3 linked regions of the Homo sapiens genome follow. The protein of the gene in region 3 purifies or fractionates together with the protein of the main gene of each other region. This does not show direct contact. Each region holds a gene or a part of one and is shown on either strand. Other genes may lie near its edges.

Evidence for each region.
Region 1: the proteins of RAB3A (region 3) and RANGRF purify together in Homo sapiens (affinity purification with mass spectrometry; 3 studies listed by BioGRID and IntAct, with this or other methods). This does not show direct contact.
Region 2: the proteins of RAB3A (region 3) and VWA5B2 purify together in Homo sapiens (affinity purification with mass spectrometry; 3 studies listed by BioGRID and IntAct, with this or other methods). This does not show direct contact.

Annotation. Positions count from the first base shown.
Region 1 is NC_000017.11:8,284,340-8,290,587, reverse strand, and holds RANGRF (ran guanine nucleotide release factor), read right to left. Parts: upstream 1,919-6,248; 5' UTR 1,800-1,918; coding exon 1,723-1,799; exon of another isoform or gene 1,633-1,722; coding exon 1,516-1,632; exon of another isoform or gene 1,331-1,515; coding exon 1,174-1,330; coding exon of another isoform or gene 1,086-1,173; coding exon 1,000-1,085; coding exon of another isoform or gene 996-999; exon of another isoform or gene 973-995; coding exon of another isoform or gene 945-972; exon of another isoform or gene 776-944; coding exon 652-775; coding exon of another isoform or gene 604-651; 3' UTR 501-603; downstream 1-500. Other genes in the region: SLC25A35 (solute carrier family 25 member 35), read left to right, coding at 1-83. UniProt on the Homo sapiens protein: May regulate the intracellular trafficking of RAN. Promotes guanine nucleotide release from RAN and inhibits binding of new GTP by preventing the binding of the RAN guanine nucleotide exchange factor RCC1.
Region 2 is NC_000003.12:184,224,644-184,232,584, reverse strand, and holds the start of VWA5B2 (von Willebrand factor A domain-containing protein 5B2), read right to left. Parts: upstream 3,001-7,941; 5' UTR 2,872-3,000; exon of another isoform or gene 2,789-2,871; intron 2,233-2,788; exon of another isoform or gene 2,206-2,232; 5' UTR 2,057-2,205; coding exon 1,918-2,056; intron 1,839-1,917; coding exon 1,668-1,838; intron 1-1,667.
Region 3 is NC_000019.10:18,200,934-18,208,346, reverse strand, and holds the start of RAB3A (ras-related protein Rab-3A), read left to right. Parts: upstream 1-4,304; 5' UTR 4,305-4,451; intron 4,452-5,606; coding exon 5,607-5,834; intron 5,835-7,413. UniProt on the Homo sapiens protein: The small GTPases Rab are key regulators of intracellular membrane trafficking, from the formation of transport vesicles to their fusion with membranes.

The sequences.
Region 1 (6,248 bases), on a different chromosome or scaffold from region 3:
ACTTCCGCCTCGGCCCCCACACCATCCTCTCCCTCTTCTTCTGGGACCAGCTGCGCTCCCTCTACTACACAGACACTAAATAACAGCCGCTTTCCCAGTCTCCACCAAATGAGCACTCCTTGGCCACTTGTGCCTCCACCACTATGTCCTGGTGACTACTGATTAGGTGACCTTTCATCCATCCATGGGGGACAGCCAACCCCACTCCCCATCTGTTCTCAGGGTTGAATCACTACAAGAGATGAGTTTCCCTTCTTTCCTTGGGTGTTGCTTTAAACCTTCCCTACCCATTCCCTGGGTAACTCACACCCCTCTCTCAGGGCTGAACGAGTCATCCCAAAGTGTATTTCCTCCCACTCACCACTGCCACCCTTGAGTCCCTCCTGCTCCCATGCACAGTTTTAAACTCCTCCCTCCAAAACCAAAGGGAATCGAGAGACCCAATTCCCAGGCGTCTGGGACCCAGGTGTCCTGTTAGATTCAAAGGCACAGAGATTATATTGATTATAAAGCAAGTTTATTCTGAAGAGGGATTGTCTTATGTTTACGCACAGGGAAGAAATAAGAGGAAACCCTCTTTTCAACCTCTTTTCCCCCTCACAGAACCGAGTCCCCAAGTTCTCAGCAACATCATGCAGTGCTTCAGCGCCTTTACTGGGGACCAAAGATGTTAGGATCGTGAAGGGTCAGACTGGTCACCAGCTGTTCAAAGTCACCCAGGCTCCAGGGTGCAGGTGACAGATTTTCGGGGCCAAGAGATGACCTGTTGTCAGGGCTTGGGGTGGGGGAACAGATGGAGACAGAACATCATCCAGGCCTGAGGTTTGGAAATTGCCAATTCCTGTTCCCCAGAGGACCTGGGTATCAGTTACCCCAAACCTCTGGCCCACTCCTGCTTCCTTGGAGGATCCCACCAGTGAGTCTCCCTGTTCTGTCCCTCCCAGCCCGATTCTCCTGGGAACCCAGTCATGAGATACCCGCCCGTTCCTTCCTCCTTACGGGGGCTGATTGAAGGTAAGCAAGAGATCAGTCTGGTACTGGGGCAGCCTCAGCAAGGCCTGATGAAGTGTCACGTCCTTTGCTACCTAAGGGGATCAGAGTCAGGATGCTTACCTGGATCTCTGCGTCCCCGCTACCGCCCTTCCAGGACATTACACACTCTCGGGCCCTCACCTGCTGGTTTTCCTTAGCTATCTGCTGCTTGCCAGAGAGGACCCAGGCTTCTTGACAGCGGCCCCTCAGGGCCAGGTTCTCCAAACTGAGAGGCTGAACAGACTCCACATGGACAGCCCTAGCCCCCTGCACGCCACCAACATCCTCAAAGTGGTACCTGGAGTAGGGAAGCGGGGTCAGGAAGGGACATCTCTGGTCGCCTCCCCGGGAGCATCTTTAAGTTGCAGGCCTGGCTCCCGGCCCGTGCGTGGTCTCACCGCCCGGATTAACCGTCGGCCGCGGGCCCCGCCCACTGGTCCGACCCCGCCCCTGCCATTGGCCAGCCGGGGGCCATTCCCTCACCGCGCAGCCGCTTCGCCCCGTACGTGGGCCTGCAGCTCGAGAAGTTCCACTATCAGGCTCTGGTCCGTCACGGGATGGCAGAAAACTTCTTGATTGTCCGGGACCGGTCGGAGGTCGCTGGAGTGAGGCGAGGCAGACCCTGGTTGACCCCGGTCTCTTCCCACAACCCACCCAGTCAGCCGCCCCTGGGCGCCCCGGCCTTCTCACCTTACGTCAATGGCCCCCATGGGGAGGATGGCGGAAAAGGCGCCCCCGAACAGCGGGCAGTCTCTCGTGGGCTCCATGGGTCTGAGGCTGGGTTATGGGCATTAGAAAGGTTTAAAAGAAGTCCACATTGGGTCACGTGGCATCGGCTCCCTGGGTTTCGCAGCTGCCACCGCCACCCGGGTCTGGCTTAGCTCCCGGATCCTTTAAGATTTGGCTCCGCCCTGCGCTCTCGTTGGCCAATCGGCGCCAAGACCCTGGGGGCGGGGGTCAGCGGCTTTGCTCCGGAAGCCGCGCTCTTAGGAGTGCGCCTGGCGGGACGGTGGGGTCTGCCTTGGGGTTGGACTTAGGGTTAGGGTCTATGTCGCCCCCGGTGGTCACGAGCATGCTCCCGCCAGCCTCCTCTTGATTGATTGATTGATTGATTGATTGACAGGTCTCGCTGTGTCGCCCAGGCTGTAATGCAGTGGCGCGATCACCGCTCACTGCAGTCTCCACCTCCAGGACTCAAGTGATACTCCTGCCTCAGCCTCTTGAGTGGCTCCTGCTCCCGCCACCACGCCCGGCTAAATTTTTAATTACTTGTAGAAATGGGGCGGGGTGGGGAGTGTCTCCCAATCTTGCCCAGGCTGGCCTCAAACTCCTGGACTCAAGCGATCCTCCCGCCTCGGCTCCCTAAGTGCTGGAATTACAGGCGAGAGCCACAGCGCCTGGCCTCCTCGTCCTTTTCAAGTGGTCACACCTTCCAAGAAGGTCGCCTGAGACCCTCCTGAGGGGCAGGTGCTCGTCAAAGGGGCCCACGTCTAGGTAGGGTCTCTTGAGTCAGGAAAGCATAGTTTCACGGTGTTCTGGGCCTCTGAAAGAAGAATGGGCTGCCACCCAGACCGCTAATTCATAGATCTGCTGCTGGGAATTAGGGGAACAATGCGTCCAGGTTAGGATTCAGGTCTCACATCTTCCTGAAAGTGAGAGCCAACCTGGGTATTAGAAATCTAATTCCTCTCAAATATTTGCCTTGGGAATGCTCCCGGGCAGGTGCAACCCCACCCCCAGCTCCACACACCTGGACAGAAGCACAGATTAAACCCTCTTTTGTTTGTCTTTTACAGATTTGTTGTGTTCTTTAAGTTTTAACTTCACTATATCATTTCAGTTCATTTCTCTATTCATCTTTGATCCTCAGCACCCGGCACGGTGTTTAGAGCATAACAGACCTGATATATATTGGGTTTTTTTGTTTTGTTTTGTTTTTGAGATGGAGTTTCACTCTTGTTGCCCAGGCTGGAGTGCAATGGCATGATCTTGGCTCACTGCAACCTCCGCCTCCTGGGTTCAAGCTGTTCTCCTGCCCCAACCTCCCAAGTAGCTGGATTACAGGCATGCACCACCACACCCAGCTAATTTTGTATTTTTAGTAGAGATGGAGTTTCTCCATGTTGGTCAGGTGAGTCTCGAACTTCCGACCTCAGATGATCCGCCTGCCTTGGCCTCCCAAAGTGCTGGGATTATTACAGGCGTGAGCCAGCGTGCCCAGCCCAGACCTAATATATATTGTTAAGTGATTGAATAAACTCAATGCAAATGTCTGGAACCCAGGAGATCACCCATACCCTCATGGATTCTAGATGTCACCTACTTCCCAGCCAAGAATTGGGCAAGAGGACTCTGATCTTGAGGCCATTCCACAGGGTTCCAAGTGCTGACCATACCTCTGGACCCTAATGACTTAGTGAAATGAAGCCAAAGGGTACATATTTATTGGTCTCTTACCTTGCCAGGCCCTAATGTGAAGGGCTGGAGATACAAAGACATTTAGGACACAGCCCCCGATGCCTCACTGAAGGAACAGTGGAGCACACTTTGAGTCTTTTTTTGTTTTTTTTTTTGAGAGGCGGTCTCACTGTTGCCAAGACTAGACTGTAGTGGTGCAGTCGTAGCTCACTGCAGCCTCAACCTTGTGGGCTCAAGCCATCCTCCTGCCTCAGCCTCCTGAGTAGCTGGGACTACAGGCATGCACCACCATGCTCCGGTAATTTTTGTGTGTGTGTGTGTGTTTTATTTTAGGGATGGAGTCTCACTGTGTTGCCCAGGCTGGTCTCGGACTTCTGGTCTCAAGTGATCCTCCTGCCTTGGCCTCCCAAAGTGATGGGATTATAGGCATGCGCCACCATGCCTGGCCCATACTTTGAGTCTTAAAGTTTGACTCAGAATTCAGTAGGACATCCTAGGGGTATTCTAGCTGGGGGAACATCAGGAGCAAAAACTTGGAGATGAGAGGGCATATTTTGGAGAAAGCAAGTGTATCTGTTTGGCAAGGGAGGGTAGGATGGGAATGGGTGGCAGGGAGCTGCAAACACAGTCAGGTGTGCAGGGTTTTTGTAGCGCACACTAAGGAGCTTGACTCCTCATTTCTTACTATAGCCATCAGACTCCTCTCTGAGTCTCATTTCCTCATCTCTAAAATGCTGTTGGGGGGCCAGGCGCCGTGGCTCACACCTGTAATCCCAGCACTTTGGGAGGCCCAGGTGGGTGGATCACCTGAGATCAGGAGTTCTAGACCAGCCTGGCCAACATGGTCAAACCCTGTCTCTACTAAACATACAAAAAAAAAAAAAAACAAAGGAAGAAATCAGATATGGATGTAGTTGAGTCTGACCTATTTCTGGGTAAAGAGAGTAGAATAAGTTTGCTGTATGAGGAATTTGACAGAGCGGGGGCGTTACAGGCTCTAGAGGGAAAGAAGGACCCCAGCCATGGGAAACAAAAGGAGCCAGGTCAGAGGAGTCCACCCCATGATGCTTCTCTGGGATAATGAGTGACAGACCTCTCTGTCCCTCTCTCCTCCTTGCTGCCAGCCTGCTCTCCAGCTCCATTCCCCACCAGGGGCAATACTGGCTCTGGCTGCTTTGGGAGCAGTCAAGCAGGTAGAGTCCTTGGAAAGGGACCTACAGGGACATAGAAGTTAACAGGGTGCCTGCACCAGGCATAAGGGGGTGTGGAGGCCTGTTACATGGGCCCAGAGGAGGTCACGCCAGGTCAGGAAGGCTGAGAAAAAAGCCCCCCCAACTTCCTCATTTTGGGTGTCTGGCCTGTCTCATGTTCTCCCATGAGCCCTACGCAGCTGGGGACCCCTGGCCCTCCACAATTCTGTGGGCTCTTGGGGGCTGCTCAGCCAGACCTCCTCTGAATGAATGGGGTGGAAGGCCACCCTCACTTGGCAAATCCCCACGCTTGGCTCCACTTCCCCTTCTCCCTTCACCTTTTTTTTTGTGTGCCTGTCAATTCTGCTGGCCCTGCCACCTGTCGACTCCCTCAAGTGTTCAAATTCCAACTTCCCAAGGGACAGGATCCAACTGGGTCGATTAGTTGTTATTCAATCTGAAAGTACCTATTTGGCCGGCTCTCCTGCCTGGCCACTCCTCAGGCCACCACCCAAACACAAGGGAGATCTCTGGTCCAGCTGGCTGTGGCTAGGATGATAAGTATCAGGGGACAAATCTCAGTAGAGAGAAGGCCAGCAGCCACTTTTCTCAGGCGAATGTGAGGGTATGGCTCGCTGTCAGCCCACTGGTTGCAAGTAGGCCTGCAACTGATTGATTCTCTACACCTGGGACATTCCCTTATCCAATGCCCTGCATGCAGTTGATGCAGTTGTTTGCTATGGGGACAAGAGTCCCAGAGACTCTCCCCTTTAGGGCACCAAGAGATGGACTCAGATCAGAGAGACAACACCACACCCAAAGTCAAGCATTCCTTTGAGTTAGGACAATGAATATTTCTATTAAGCAGGGGTTTTCGTCCTTTTTTCTACTGTGGACTGCTTTGGCAGTTTTGTGAAGCCCATGATCCCCTATTCGGTGTAATGTTATTATTTTTATTTTTTCTGTGTTTTTGAGACAGGGTCTTATTCTGTCACCCAGGCTGGAGTGCAGTGGCATGATAACAGCTCACTGCAGCCTCAACCTCCTGGGCTTAAGCCATCCTCCCACCTTGGACTCTCAAAGAGATTACAGGCATGGGCCAGGTGCGGTGGCTCACGCCTGTAATCCTAGCACTTTGAGAGGCCTAGGTGGGCAGATTGCTTGAGCTCAGGAGTTTGAGACCAGCCTGGAAAACAAAGTGAGACTCTGTCTCTATTACCAAAAAAAAAAAAAAAAATTAGCCAGGCATGGTGGCATATGCCTGTAGTGCCAGCTACTTGGGAGGCCAAGGTGGGAGGATGACTTGAGCCTGGGAGGCAGAGGTTGTAATGAGCCAAGATCACGCCATTGCACTCCAGCCTGGTCAACAGAGCCAGACTGTTTCTCAAAAAATAAAAAAGAAAATTAAACCCAGATATTTGATAGAGTACAAGTCTACTTCTTTGTTATCATATTAACTAGATCTAGCAGCAGTCTCTAATAAATGTAATAAAAAACTAGCAATGCATACAAATTATGGTTCAAGATATCCACAGCCATTCTAAAGTAAGCATATCTGTAACTGCTATTGAGATGAAACCACAGATACTGCTAATACTACTGTGGTTT
Region 2 (7,941 bases), on a different chromosome or scaffold from region 3:
GAATAATGACCAGCCATGTACAGTGGCAGCTGTGTACACCACCGACGTGGTCTGGCCCCAGCCCACGTTCACAGCCCTACTGTACCTCACTTCCTCACAATGACCAATTGTTCATCCTTTCAATAAATACTTGCTGAATAACTGAAGGGAAGAAAAAGATGGAAGGAAAGAAAGAAAGGGGCTTCCATCCCAGCCAACCGACACAGTGGAGACAGCACAGCATCAAGTTTTAAATATCAGCTCGGTGACCTCTAATTGAGTCCTTTGGCAGCTCTCTTGTTCTGAGGAGCCTGTTTCCTCATCCATAAAGTGGGGATCATAATAACTCTGTGATTGTGGTGAGGAACAAATGAGGCAATGTATGCAAAGCACCCAACATATAAGTCAGTGACCCCTGCTATGACTTTCATCCCCCATAACAGGAGGAAGGGGGATTATCCCCCTTCCATCCCCCATAACAGGAAGAAGCCTGCATTACCCACTACTTGGGATTCAAATGAGGTGATACTAGCGATTGTAAACTGTAAATCACTATAAACATGAGATATTTTATTGTCATTACCCACTGTAACCTACTTATAAGCATTTGCTTATACTGTTGCCCCTACCTTCCACTTAACTGAGTCCTACCCTTTCTTGCAGTCAAATGCTGGCTCTACCTCCTTCTGGAACATTCCTGGGGCCTCAGCCCAGAGCTCACTCTAGCCTCTAACCACAAGCCCCTAACGTGCTGGGCTTATGCCAGCTCTCAACACCACTGGATTCTGTTCCTCTTCTTCTTACCTGGATTGCAAATCCCCTGGGCAGGAATCAAAGCCATGTATGAATGAATCAATGAAAGAACCAGGTGCAAGCACAGCACACAGCACAGGGCTGGGCTTCTGTCCCTTCCCCGGGCACTCGCTGGGCCTCATAGTGCCAGGTTCTGTGTGAGGTGCTGGGATTTGGAGATGCTCCAGCGGGGAGACAGACAGGCAGATCTGTGACAATGACTCCCCCTGTAAGTGCCATAACGAGGGGGCACAAAAGGCTGGGGAGCCAGGAAACAGTGCAGCTATTTGTGGGAGAGTCAGGGAGGGTTTCCCTAGGAATGACGTTTAGTGGATCTTAAAGGACAAGTAGGAATTTGCTCAATAGAAGATGGAAAGACAGAGCAGAGAGTTGGGAAAGGACCTGTCAGTCAGTGTGGCCAGCGGCAGCGGTACCTGGTGTATGGGGTCGCTGGGAGAGGGATGGAATGGGGTGAGAGCGAGGGCCTTGGCTGCTAGGCACAGGAGTCTACACTTGATTCACTGGCCCACGCGGGGCCGGATTGAGGTGTGCAGCCTAAAATAGTAAGGGGCCGGAGGGGACCACCAGGGGAGAAGGCTCCCTTTGCAGCCCCCTAGAGAGACCGGTCTCCTGGGCTGTAAGGGTTGCTGGCGCCCCCGCAAGCCCTGTGCTGCCTGCTGTGTCTGTCTCCCAGGCTGTGAACCTCCGGGCCATGTTCTCCCAGCACCTGGCGCAGGTCAGGTGCCCAGCCCACGACTGCTAAATACCAGGATGAGCCAATGAATGCACAAGGCAGTGCCCGGAGGAAGGCGGGGGACGGGCGGAGGCCGAGCGGATGCGGGAGCCTGAGCTGCGCCCGGCTTTCAGGAGCGCGGGTGCGGGCGCGCGGAACTCACCCTGCGCGCAGCGGCGGGGCGTCGGGGTCCCCAGCCCCGGGCCCAGAGCGCGGCAGCAGGCGGCCTGCGAGCGGCGCCGGCTCTGCAGCTGGAAGGAGACGCGCCGTCCGGCGGCCTCGGCCTCGAAGCCGGACACCACCTCGGCCTCGGCCAGCGGGTACACGAACACGCCTGGGGAGGGCGGCGGGAGGCGGCGTCGGACCCTGCCCGGCGCACCCCCCGCCGCGCCCGCGCCCCACCCGGGCCTCACCGTCCACCGGCTGCGGCTGCGGGTTGCGGTAGGTGAGCCGGGCCCGCACGCTGAGGCAGGGGCCGTTGGCGCAGGCCCGGACCCAGGAGTCCGTGAGCGGCAGCGGCGTCCAGCTGGAGGGGCAGTACAGGCCGGGCATGGCGCCGGGAGGCCGGCCCTGCGGGAACGGGCCGGGGAAGCTGGGCGCAGGGTGACGGGACGCCCACCCCGCGCTCCAGAGGCCAGCGCGAGAGTCTCACTCCAGCACCCGGACGGGGCCTGCCGGGGCGCGAGGCCGAGCGGGAGCTCCTGAGGGCGACAGGTGGCGGGGGAGATAAGGGGGCGGCAGGCGTGGTGGCGAGGAGGGCATCCTCACGCGTTACCTGGGCAGCCGGGCCGCGGAGGGTTAATGATTAACGCGCGCTTCGGCGCCCAGCAGTCCCGCCGCGGCTCCCCCGGGGGTGGGGGCGGTCACAGCTGTTCCACCGCCCACTCCCAACCTCGCAGCCACCCCCGTACCTGCCGGCCCCCCGGGGCCCCCCGCGGCCGCCAGCTGTCGGAAGCGGCGCGGGTGGAGATGGAAGATGCTCCGGGAAGGCGGAGGTTTAAAGGGCCCGAATCCCCCCGGAGGCCCCCGGCCCTGCGAGGGATCGCGGGGGCAGGGTGGATGGGGCGCCGAAAGGGCCTTGGTCTTTCTCTCCCTGGTGCCTCATCCGACGGGGGTGCTGGCCGGAGTGGAGGGGTTAAGGGTGGGAAGAACGAGCTGGGAAAGCGAAAAGAGGGGGTCTTTGGGAGGCAAGCCCGGGAGAGGTGTCGGGCCAGGGAGAGTCCGTGGGAGCCGCCAGGTTACCGCTCCCTACCCCGGCAGAGCTGATGTGGGAGGAGGGGGCACCTGCAGTGGCCGCGGCCCGCGCAGGGGATGCCGCGGGCTGGCTCTGGGGATCGCCCCGCTCCCTGTGGCAGTCTCAGCCTCACCGTCGCGCCCTCCGCGGAGTTCTAGGTGCCCACGGGATCCGTGTGGGTGGTGCCGCCTCTGCGCTCCGGGTGGCCCTCGGTCCCGGCACCTGCCGGCCGCCAGTTCGTGACTGTGGCTGCAGCGGCTCTGAGTCCCGGCAGGGGCGCGGGCCCTGCCGGCGGTGGTCCCGCCCCCGTTCCGAGAGGCCGCCCCTCCAGCCTGCCCTGGCCACGCCTGCTGCTGCTGCGGCGGGGCTGGCGCTCCCCCCTCCTTCGGGCGCGGTACCGCCTCCGCGCCAGCCGCGGCAGCCCGAGCCAGACTGGGCACCGCAGTGCAGGGACCGCGTCCCCGCCGCCGCACGGATCCCCGTCACTGCAGGACCGAGGCCTCAGAGACCCCACCCTTTCCATTCTTCAGGAATCAGGCGTCCTGCAAGTGCCACCGACACTGCCGCGACCCCAGCTATCCCATTACCACGACGGCATCCCATTCCCCAGCCCACCCCACCCCCTGCCCTGGGTTGCTTCCCATCGCTGCAGAGACCCTCCCTCCTGACTGCAGCGAACCCCCCAGCCCCCCATCACCGTCACCGCAGGACTCTTCCCCCAAGAAGCTGGCCCCTTTCCTTTGCAAAGTGCTCTTCATCACTGCAGAAAACCTCCCCCATCCCTGCAGGTACTTTTAGTTCATGCAGCCACTTCAGTGACCACTCACTCCAAGCAGGGATTCCTCATCACTGCAGCGACCTCCTCCCACCCCCAAGCAGCCGGCCTTGGCATCGCTGCAGTGCCAACCACTTCTGCTGGGGTGGGAGGGTGTGCACAATAGCGCCCTCAGCCTATAACCCCTTGGTCTCTTCAGCTGTGCGGGCCTTGGGAGTGAAGCCTTCTAGCCTGAAGAGCCTTCTTATGGCTGCAGACCGTCCCCTCATAGCAGTGACCCCCACCCATCACCGCAGCCCTGAAGAGAAAACATCTCTGCTTGTCAGGAGGGCCCCTTGTTATTGGCAGACTTTGCATGTGCTTGACAGTGTTATGCTGTCAAAAAGTAGGAAGGTCCGGAAAACCTCTCCCAGGTCCCCCAAGGAAGAGTCTGAGAGCCCTGGGGAAGTGAGAGGAGATGACCATGTTTGGGGATCATCCATGTAAGCTTTTTGGCAGATGCCATACTGAGATTCTGCAGAGAGAGCTTGAGGAGAGCTGGGGATGGAGGACAGCCAGTAGGAAGTGAGCTTTCGAGTCGGGCCCATGGTTCTCACTCCTCCGCATTAACTCTCTCCTTCTGATTTCAATCACTATCACCAGGGATCATCCCCCCGGGGGATCCCTGCCTCCTTGAGTATCTGAGCCCTCAACCCCAACCATCTCCTTTGCTCACCCTACTTAGCATGGTGGAGAGAGCTTGACCTTTTCCCAGGGAATTTCATGGGTGGAAATGCACAGGAATGATACAGGGAGCACAGACACAGTCACACGTACCCAACACACAGGGAGCTCCAGCTGGGTCCTAGCCCTCTTTCCATACTACCTGGGTCATGGTTCCATTCACCTCTCTCCCCCTTTCTCTACTGAGTCTGTTCTCAGCTTCATCCTGAACGAGGGTCCCTCTTTCAGGCCTAGGGAGAAACAGTGGATGGGCTGATGGTCCCTCCAGGTGATCCAGGGCCTCAGGTAGGACCAGCCCTGGCCCTGAGGGCCTCACAAAGGTCCAGGCAGTGGCCACCTTTCCACAAGCACCTTGTGCTCTGCCCCTTCTACAAATGAACCAAGAGCTACATGTAGCCCTTGGACAAACATGAGGTTGCAAATAGCAGTCATTAGGGAGGTCTCCGACACATGGAAATGGAAAAAGAGGTCCTTCTGTTTGGTCCTGAGGAGAGCTTAGATGTAAGACAGCCTCCCAGGAAGATAGCATCCCTATCAGAGACCAGACACACACACTGGCAGAAGTCAAACTTTGCTGCAAAGCTGGACCAACCCTGAGATCTTGCTAGGAAGGTCTCCTTAGCTGAGGCAAATGGAGGGAGAGACAGGTGAATGGCTCCACAAAAAGCATAGGGCACCCTGCAGGATGAGGGGCAGGGGGTGGGGAGCCAGTGCTGGCTGCCTGGCACCTTGGGTGGGGCAGTAAGAAGGGTCTCTGAGGCCCAGCTGGAAGGCCCTCTGGTGGTGAGGCAGCAGCATGACAGCCAAGGGCAGAAGGGGACAGCACAGGAACCAGATTCCAGATCTGAGGCCGGGCTGAGGGATAGCATGGGGTGGGCTACGTGGTAGTCATAGGAGAATAGATGATATAGATGATATACATATAGATATAGATATATAGATATATTTTTTGAGACAGAGTTTCGCCCTGTCGTCCAGGCTGGAGTGTAGTGGAGCGATCTCGGCTCACTGCATGCAACATCTGCCTCCCAGGTTCAAGTGATTCTCCTGCCTCAGCCTCCTGAGAAGCTGGGATTACAGGCGAGCACCAGCATGCCTGGGTAATTTTTTGGATTTTTAGTAGAGACAGGGTTTCACCATGTTGTCCAGGCTGGTCTTGAACTCCTGAGCTCAGGCAATCTGCCTGCCTCAGCCTCCCAAAGTGCTAGGATTATAGGCATGAGCCACTGCGCCTGGCCCATAGGAGGATATTGAGCTGAAAAGACTTAGCTTCTGCCTAGGAGAGTCTCACACTTTAGTGAAAAGGGCAGACAAATATACAGTTACAGTAGCTTGAGATAAGTGCTGCATTACAAGAGTAATAGTAATGGATATTATAAAAGCTTTTAACTGGCTGGCGGTGGCTCACACCTGTAATGCCAGCACTTCAGGAGCCTAAGGCAGGAGAATCCCTTGAGGCCAGGAGTTTGAGACCAGCCTGGACAACATAGGGAGACCCTATCTCCATAACAATTAAAAATTAAAAAACAAATCTTAACCAAGGGTGGTGGTGATGTGGGGAATAGGGTGAACCTTAGGGAACTGACTTAGAAAATGGCACTCAGCCAGGTCTTCTTGTTGCAAAGCACAACTCAATTATCTCCTGCTTGTGGGCTGCCTGTCGGCCTTTGGAGGGCAGAGGTCTTATTTCCCCAAACTATAGATGATCTACCCTCTCAGATTGGAGCTCCAGAAGAGATATACCTAGAGAAAAAGAGGAATTTTGCCTCTTGCTGTCTAAAGCTTGACTTCCAAAATCCCAGCCCCTGCCTGAAACCCAAATTGGAAGATGGTTTAGTTCATTAATTCATTTGTTCACTCAAGAAATATTTCTTGTTGAAGCCTGCGGTGTGCTAGAGCTGGAACTACAGCAGAAAACAAGACAGTGGTAGCCCCTCCCCTCACGAAAGACGTCAATTAAACAATTAATTTTTAAATTTTGTATTTCAAAATAACTTCAAAACTTCTACAAAAGTTGCAAATAAAGCATTTTTTTCTGAACCATTTCAAATTAAGTTTTACACATCCGACCTCTTTACCCCTAAACACTTCGGTTTGTCTTTTCTTTTCTTTTTTTTTTTTTTTTCAGAGACAGGGTCTCACTCTGTCACCCAGGCTGGAGTGGAGTGGCACAATCATAGCTCACTGCAGTCTTGAACTCTTGAGCTCAAAGGATCCTTCCTCCTTGGCTTCCCAAAGTACTGGGGTTACAGGTGTGAGCCACCATGCCCAGCCAGTTGGTGTGGGGGGGGGTAGTTTTTTTTATTTGTTTGTTTGTTTGTTTGTTTTGAAACACAGTCTCACTGTTTTGCCTAGGCTGGAGTGCAATGGCTCAATCTCAGCTCACTGCAACCTCCGCCTCCCGGGTTCAAGTGATTCTCATGCCTCAACCTCCAGAGTAGCTGGGACTACATGTGCACGCCAGAATGCCTGGCTAATTTTTGTGTTTTTGTTTTTATTTTTATTTTTTGAGATGGAATCTCACTCCGTAGTCCAGGCTAGAGTGCAGTGGTGCGTGTGCAATCTCAGCTCACTGTGACCTCCACCTCCCAGTTCAAGCGATTCTCCTGCCTCAGCCTCCCGAGTAGCTGAGAATACAGGCACCCACCACCATGCCCAGCTAATTTTTGTATTTTTAGTAGAGATGGGGTTTCACCAAGTTGGTCAGGCTGGTCTCAAACTCCTGACCTCAAGTGATCTGCCTGCCTCAGCCTCCCAAAGTGTTGGGATTATAGGTGTGAGCCACTGCTCCCAGCCTTTAAGAGTCTTCTACTGGGAGTAGTTTCTCCTTTTTGTCTTTTGTGATACTGACACATTTGAAGAGTACTGGCCAGTTGTTTTGTAGAATGTCCGTCAGTTTGAGTTTGTCTGTTGTTTCCTCATAATTAGATTCAGGATATGCACTTCCCATAGGAACACCACATAAGTGACGTTGTACCCTTCTCACTATATCTCATTGGGAGGATGTACATGTCAGTTACAGTTACTGGCGATTTTAACTTTGATCCTTTCAATAAGGTGGTGTGTTAGGGTTCTCCAGAGAAAACAGAACCAACAGAGATTGAGAGAGAGAGAGAGAGAGAGAGAGAGAGAATACGTATATATAAAATAAGGAATTGGCTCGTGTGCTTGTACAGGCAAGTCCAGTGCGGGCTGGCGGGCTAAAGACCCTGGAGACCGGATGGTGCAGATGAAATTTGGAGGCAGCCTGCTGGAGAATTTCCTCTTTCTCATGGAGGTCCATCTTTTTGTTCTGTTCAGGCCTCAAGTGATTAGATGAGGAACATTGTGAAGGTTAACTCTGGGTCTTAGCTTGACTAAATTAAGGAAGACCTATTCAGAAGCCGGGGCCAGGCGCGGTGGCTCACGTCTATAATCCCAGCACTTTGGGAGGCCGAGGTGGGCAGATCACCTGAGGTCAGGAGTTTGAGACCAGCCTGGCAAACATGGCAAAACCCTGTCTCTATTAAAAATGCAAAAATTAGCCAGGTGTGGTGGTGGACAACTGTAATCCCAGCTGAGGTGGGAGAATTGCTTGAGTCTGGGAGGCGGAGGTTGCTGTGAGCTGAGATCACGCCACTGCACTCCAGCCTGGGTGACAGAATGAAACTCCAACTCAAAAAAAAAAAGAAGCCTGACTATAGTCTGGAAAAAAAAAAGAAGACT
Region 3 (7,413 bases):
CCCCGCCTCCGGAAGCCTCAGTATCCATCCCTCCCCTCTGCCTCCCTCTTCGCGTGCCTGAATATTTATACAAGATACAGGCGTCATCACAGCCGCCCTCGGCTTCCAGAGCAGCTGGCTTCGTTCATAAATATTATAACCACTCAGAATTCATCATCATCACAGTTAATGATAAAATTCCACAGTGCCAGAACTAAAAGTCATCCGGGTTCACGAACTTGGTGCATTTCCTTCCAGACTTTTAAAAAGAAGATATTTAGGGAATTTTTTTTTCAAGATTTTTCCCCCCAGTCCGCTTACAAAGTAATACCATGTTCGCTGTAAAAAATTTGGAAATAATGGAAATGTATAAAGAAGGAAATAAAATTCTGCTGTATCTCCACCCATGGATTATCTGCAGTATTTTGACTTATTTCCCTCTAGTTTTTCTCCATCTGTTATAAGATATTCATATTTTTGGCTGGGCGCGGTGGCTCACGCCTGTAATCCCAGCACTTTGGGAGGCCGAGGCGGGCGGATCACGAGGTCAGGAGATCGAGACCGTCCTGGCTAACAGTGAAACCCCGTCTCTACTAAAAATACAAAAAATTAGCCGGGCGTGGTTGCAGGCGCCTGTAGTCCCAGCTACTCGGGAGGCTGAGGCAGGAGAATGGCCTGAACCCGGGAGGCGGAGCTTGCAGTGAGCCAAGATCGAGCCACTGCACTCTAGCCTGGGTGACAGAGCGAGACTGTCTCAAAAAAAAAAAAAAAATTCATATTTTTTTCTTTCTTTTCTTTTCTTTCTTTCTCTGTCTTTCTTTTCTTTCCTTTTCCCTTTCTCTTTCTTTCTTTCTTTGCGTCTCGCCTTGTCGCCCAGGCGGGAGTGCAATGGTGTGATCTTGGCTAACTGCAACCTCCGCCTCCTGGGTTCAAACGATTCTCCTGCCTCAGTCTCCTGAGTAGCTGGGATTACAGGTGCCCACCACCATGCCCAGCTAATTTTTGTATTTTTAGTAGAGACTGGGTTTTCACCATGTTGGCCAGGCTGGTCTTGAACTCCTGACCTCATGATCCGCCTGCCTCGGCCTCCCAAAGTGCTGGGATTACAGGCATGAGCCACTGCACCCAGCCCTAGAATATTCATATTTCTTATAAATGAATATTCATATGTTCTCCTTCAGTTTGAGCCAAAGGCATTTGTCCCTCTCCTCTTACTGACTGCATCTGCTCTGGCCACACTGCAAGCCTGGTCCCACCACAGGGCCTTCAAACAAGCTGTTCCCACTACCTGGAATGCTTCTCTCTCAGCCCCCAGCCTCACCCATTAGATTTTTGTTTTTATTTTTGTTTTAGACAAAGTTTCGCTCTTGTTGCCCAGGCTGGAGGACAATGGCGTGATCTTGGCTCACTGCAACCTCTGCCTCCCGGGTTCAAGCGATTCTCCTGCCTCAGCCTCCCAAGTAGCAGGGATTACAGGCGACCGCCACCATGCCCGGCTAATATTTAGTAGAAATGGGGTTTCACCATGTTGACCACGCTGGTCTTGAACTTCTGACCTCAGGTGATCCACCCACCTCGGCCTCCCAAAGTGCTGGGATTACAGGCATGAGCCACCACACCTGGCCCCCACACTGGGTTTTAAGTTAGTGTCTTCTTCCCCGAGAAGTCGTCCCTGGACCCGTATCTGGGATACTTTTTTTTTTTTTTCTTGAGACAGAGTCTCCCTCTAGCACCTAGGCTGGCGTGCAGTGGTGCCGGTGATCTCAGCTCACTGCAACCTCCGCCTCCCTGGTTCATGCGATTCTCATGCCTGGGCCTCCTGAGCAGCCTCCTGGGACAGGCACCACCACACCGGGCTAATTTTTGTATTTTTAGCAGAGATGGGGTTTCACCATGTTGGCCAGGCTGGTCTCGAACTCCTGACCTCAAGGTCAAGGAGTGATCCTCCTGACTCGGCCTCCCAAAGTGCTGGTATTACAGGCATAAACCACCGCACCTGGCCACATTTTTATTTTTATTTGTCTAGTGTAGACGATAGGGTAGGGATGCAGGGAAGCCTCTGGACTTTCCTCTGAGTGGGACCGGCCTGGAAGCCTAGCCCGTTCTCCCACCAGCTCTGTCTCCCCTGACACAAAGAAAATACCCCAATCCCGCAGCCCCTCCCCCAGCTCAACCATTTCTAATTCCAGAGCCCAATGCTGCTCTGGACAATCAAGGGCTTGCATTCTTTTTAAATTTAAATTAAGTAATTAATTTTTTGAGACAGCGTCTCACTCTGTCGTCCAGGCTGGAGTGTAGTGGCGCGATACGGTTTCCTACAGCCTCGACCTCCTGAGCTCAAGTGATCCTCCTACTTCAGCCTCGGGAGTATTTGGGTCCACAAGCACGCGACACCACATCCAGCTAATTTTTAAATTTTTTGTAGAGATGGGGCCTCCCTATGTTACTCAGGCTGGTTTCCAATTCCTGGGCTCAAGCGATCCTCCCGCCTTGGTCTCCCAAAGTGGTGGGATTACAGGCGTAAGCCTCCGCACCCGGCTATTTTTACTTTAAAATACTAAGTCAGTGACGGAAGCTTCCGCACATTCTCGTGGCTCACTTTTCTCTTCCTGGGGAAAAAAGGCAGGAGGTATTTCCGAGAGAGCCACCCATGTAGGAAGCGTGCCTTTGGGCGATCAGGGAGCTGAGCAACCGAAAAACCTCCCCTCCAAGGAGGCGGCAGGCCAGGGCCTGGACCAGCTGCCCTGGAGCCCCCCACAGAGCACGGACTACCGCGTGGGCGCGGAGGGCAGGGAGAATGGGAGGTGGATTTCTTTTTATTTTTTGTTTTTCTGAATTTTCCCAATTTCTCTGCAGTGGATTGGTGATACTTCTATAGTCCGAGTGGGGGAGGAGGGAGCAAACATGTTACCCTAAAAAGAAAAAATAAATTTCCCAAATGTAAACGGTGCGGGGACGTGGGGGTGGGCGTCCCAGTACTCCCAGGGCACTGGGGGCGGGCTGGGGACTGGGTTGGCGGCGGCTGGGCCTCGAGGCGCTAAGTTATTCTGGTCTCTCGGCGCCTCCGCAGCTGGCGAGCTTTTTATAAACAGGACGAGTCACCCCCCGCCACACACACACGCTCCAGCCCCGCCTACTGGGAGGGGTGGGGGGAGAATCTAGGGGATCAGGACTCTCCTGGGGGCCACACACCCCTGGAGGGTTTGAAAGCTGGAGTAGGGGGAGCAGGAGACCCAAAGTGGGGGCTGGGGTTTCGGGCTCCTCCTCCCTCCCCAAATTCTGACTTCCTTCCCTAAAGATTTGGAGGAATAAAAGATGGACCATCTTAGCTCCCAAAAGGCTCCATCCTCTGAGTTTTGCTTTCCCAGGATGGAGGGAGGGGGTCTCCCAGCCCCCGGGTCTTTGAATCCGAGCTTTGAAGAGCTGGAGGCTTCGGCTCGTGCCCTCCCTGTTTCCCGGGGCATTTACCGCAGGCTTTAAGGGGTTTCCGGGACAGGTCGCTTCTCTGTCCCTGCTAAACCTTTTCTTCGAATTTTCTTCTTGATGACGGGGCGCAGGGAGGGGAGGGGGTTCCCAGAGAGTCCATCAGCCCCTTCCTCCTTTTCTGGGAATGGTGGGGAGGGGAGGCTCTCTTGACCTCTACTTCTTTCTTTTCAAACCTCAGAAACGGGGGAGGGGTGGAGTCTTTACTAGCCCCTCCCTCAGTGGGGGGGTCTTACGCCTCGGGAATGGGACAGGGGTCCCTCTTGACTCCTGTTTATTCTTTGGTATTTATTTTGAACCCCATATATGTGAGGGTATAAAACATCTCTTGGGCCTCGATTTTTCTTTTCTGCAATTGGGAGTCAGGGGCATTTAACAGGGGTCACAGCACCTTGGACTAGACGGTGGCCTCAAGAGTCCCCTACCTGGGGTGGGTGCGGGCGGGTAAGGGAACCGCCCCTCGAAGACCGGGGCTCAGCCAAGGCCTCAGCCTCTCGGCCCTTCAATCTCCCAGATGCCACCATTGGACAAGAGGAGGGCGTAGACAATCTCTGATTGGCTACTTCGCCCGTCGCTCGAGAGCTTAAGCCAGTGAGAGAACGCTGAGGGGCCCCGCCTCCCCGAGGCGGACAGGAGGCGGACGAGAGGCGGAGTCGGCCCCCGCGCCGCTCCCGCCCCTACTGGATGCACACGCTAGGCCCCGCCCCATTTGCACGTCAATCTGCTCAGGAGCCCTGCCCCATCTGGCTCTGCGTGCGTCAATGGGCCACATCTCTACGCGCGGCTCCGCCTCCGGATGGCGTCACGGACTTATCTACATGTGAGGCTCCGCCCCTCCCTTTGCAGGACGTCACGGAGGACTGCAGGGGCCTGAGCCGCTGCTGCCGCCGCCGCCGCGCAGCCCCACATCAACGCACCGGGGTCCTGTCACCGCCACCGCCAAAAAAGTCACCGCCGCTAGGGTCGCCGTTGCATCGGTGCAGGGCAAGGTGAGCTCCTGGGCGGCCGGGTGTGCTCAGGCTCCGAGCACCTGCATAACCTTCATTTGACTGATGGGCTGATGGAGGTGGGGGACGAGGTTGACTAGGGTTGAATGGGGGGAAGGATGCGGCGGTCGCGAGGCTGGGAATGGGTAGGGCCCGGGCGCCCCACTCCTGCCTGATCCTCACCACTAACCCCCCCAACCCCCCTGCTCTGCGGCGGAGGGGGAGGGGAGCCGAGCTCCTTGCGGGAAGCTGTGCGCGCGGGAGGCTTTTGCGTGCGCGTGCGCGTGGTGTGCACACGCGTGTGCGCGCCTGCCTGTGTCAGCGGGTCTGTGTGCACCCTTGCTTGTGTACCTGGATATGCTCGTGTGACGCCGTGGGGGTCTGGGCCTAAGTGTGTGAGCGTTGCACGCGCGTGGAGAAAGACGTGTGGACCGCCTGTGCAGGTATGGCCCGTGCATACAAGCACGGGGATCCGTGTCCGTGTGGGTGATGTGCACACGCCTGCATGGGTGGAGGGGCCTGTGCGCACGGGTGGTTTGCACATTTCTATAGGCGAGTCGGTGTGCAAACAGGTGTCTGTGTCTTTGTCCTGTGCACCTCAGTGCGTTCACACACTCCTGTATGTACGGATGAGCGTGTTTGAGGCTGTGTGCACGTGAGCGTGTGCATGCCCCTCCTGTATCATGTGATGCAGCGGCCTTGGCCGGAGCTCTCCGGCCTGGAGGTTTGCGGGGAGCGGGGGCTGCAGATGCGCGTCCTCGAGGGACCATGCACGCGGTGCACGTGGGGCCGCGCGGCCGGGTTCTGAGGACCATGAAAGATTGATGGGGGGCGGAGCCAGCCGCAGTCACCCCCTCCGGGCTCAGCCCTGGGTTTAGGGTTACAGCCCCACCTGGGGCACCTGCCCCTTGAAGGGGGCTGCTGGGGTGTCCCCATCGGCAACCCTCTGAGCCCCTCCTCTGAAACGCCCAGGATTTCAAGGTCACAGGCTGCCCTCTGCTGGGGGCACCACCAATTAATACTGGGGCTCCTGATGGGATAAGGGTGTCCTCCATACACCGGCCGTTTTCTGGAGCCCTTGCCATCTTCTGCCTGGGCTTGGGCACATGAGGATGGAGAGAGCCCCCCTCACGGCTCTGCTACACCCGGTATCCCCAGATGGCATCCGCCACAGACTCGCGCTATGGGCAGAAGGAGTCCTCGGATCAGAACTTCGACTACATGTTCAAGATTCTCATCATCGGCAACAGCAGCGTGGGCAAGACGTCCTTCCTCTTCCGCTATGCTGACGACTCGTTCACGCCTGCCTTCGTCAGCACCGTGGGCATCGACTTCAAGGTCAAGACCATCTATCGCAACGACAAGAGGATCAAGCTGCAGATCTGGGTGGGTCCCAGCTGGAGGGCTCCCGCCCGGCTCGGTTGGATTCCCGTACTTGGAAAAGCAGCCCCAACCTCGTCTATCTCTTTCCTGACTGGAGTCATTCACTTACACACTGGGCATTTATCAGTAAGGTGCCCACTGTGTACCGGGGCAGAAACAGCACCTGTGTTCTCCCATAAGCACCTAATCCTGGTCCCTCAGTTTCCCCATCTTCAAGTTCTTCCATGTATGAGGTTTCAGCTGGATCTTGGTCCCCATTCTCTTTTTTTGTTTGTTTTTTGAGACAGGGTGGTCTTGCTCTGTCCCCTAGGCTGGAATGCAGTTACGTGATCACGGCTCTCTGCAGCCTCGACTTCCCAGGCTCAAACCATTCTTCCACCTGAGCCTCCTGAGTAGCTAGGACCACGGGCTTCTACCACCACGCCTGCTGATTTTTTTCTTTTTTGTAGAGACAGGGTCGGGCTATGTCTGCCCAGGCTGGTCTTGAACTCCTGGGCTCAAGCGATCCTCCCACCTCAGCCTCTCAAAGTGCTAAGATTACAGGCATGAGCCACCCCACCTGGCCTTGTTAGTTTTAAGAGACAGAGTCTCACTCTGTTGCCCAGGCTGGATTTGAACTCGTGGGCTCAAGCAATCCTCCCGCCTCAGCTTCCCAAGTAGCTGGGAGTACAGGCAAGTGTCAGCTTCCTTTAATTTTTAAACCTACAGTTAAATTCTCTCCATCTTCATCTGGCTTGATTTTTCTCCTTGGTCCTTGTCACTCTCCAATATAGGATACATTTATACCGTTATTTTCTATTTCCCACACTGAGTGTCACTTAGCAAGGGAAGTGCCCATCTTGTTAACAACTGTGTCCCCAGTGTCCAGTTCAGGGTGTGGAAAAGATCAGTGCCCAGTCCATGTTTGTTTATTTGTTTGTTTGTTTTTTGAGACAGAGTTTTTGCTCTGTCACCCAGGCTGGAGTGCAGTAGTGCAATCTTGGCTCACTGAAACCTCTGCCTCCCGGGTTCAAGCGATTCTCCTGCCTCAGCCTCCTGAGTAGCTGGGATTACAGGGGCTCACCACCAAGCCCAGCTAATTTTTTTTTGTATTTTTAGTAGAGATAGGGTTTCGCCATGTTGGCCAGGCTAGTCTTGAACTCCTGACCACAAGTGATCCACCTGTCTTGGCCTCCCAAGGTGCTGGGATTACAAGCATGAGCCACCACGCCTGGCCTCTGTTTTCTTTCTTTCTTTCTTTCTTTCTTTCTTTTTTTTTTTTTTTTTGTTGTTATTGTTTTGAGACGGAGTCTCGCTCTTGTCACCCAGGGTGGAGTGCAATGGCGCGATCTCGGCTCACTGCAACCTCTGTCTCCTGAGTTCAAGCGATTCTCCTGCCTCAGCCTCCTGAGTAGCTGGGATTACAGGTGCATGCCACCACGCCGAGCTAATTTTTGTATTTTTAGTAGAGACAGAGTTTCACCATGTTGGCCAGGCTGGTCTCGAACTCCTGACCTCAGGTGATCCACCTGCCTTGGCCTCCCAAAGTGCTGGGATTACAGGCGTGAGCCACCACCACACCCGACCCCCTGTTTGTTTTTTG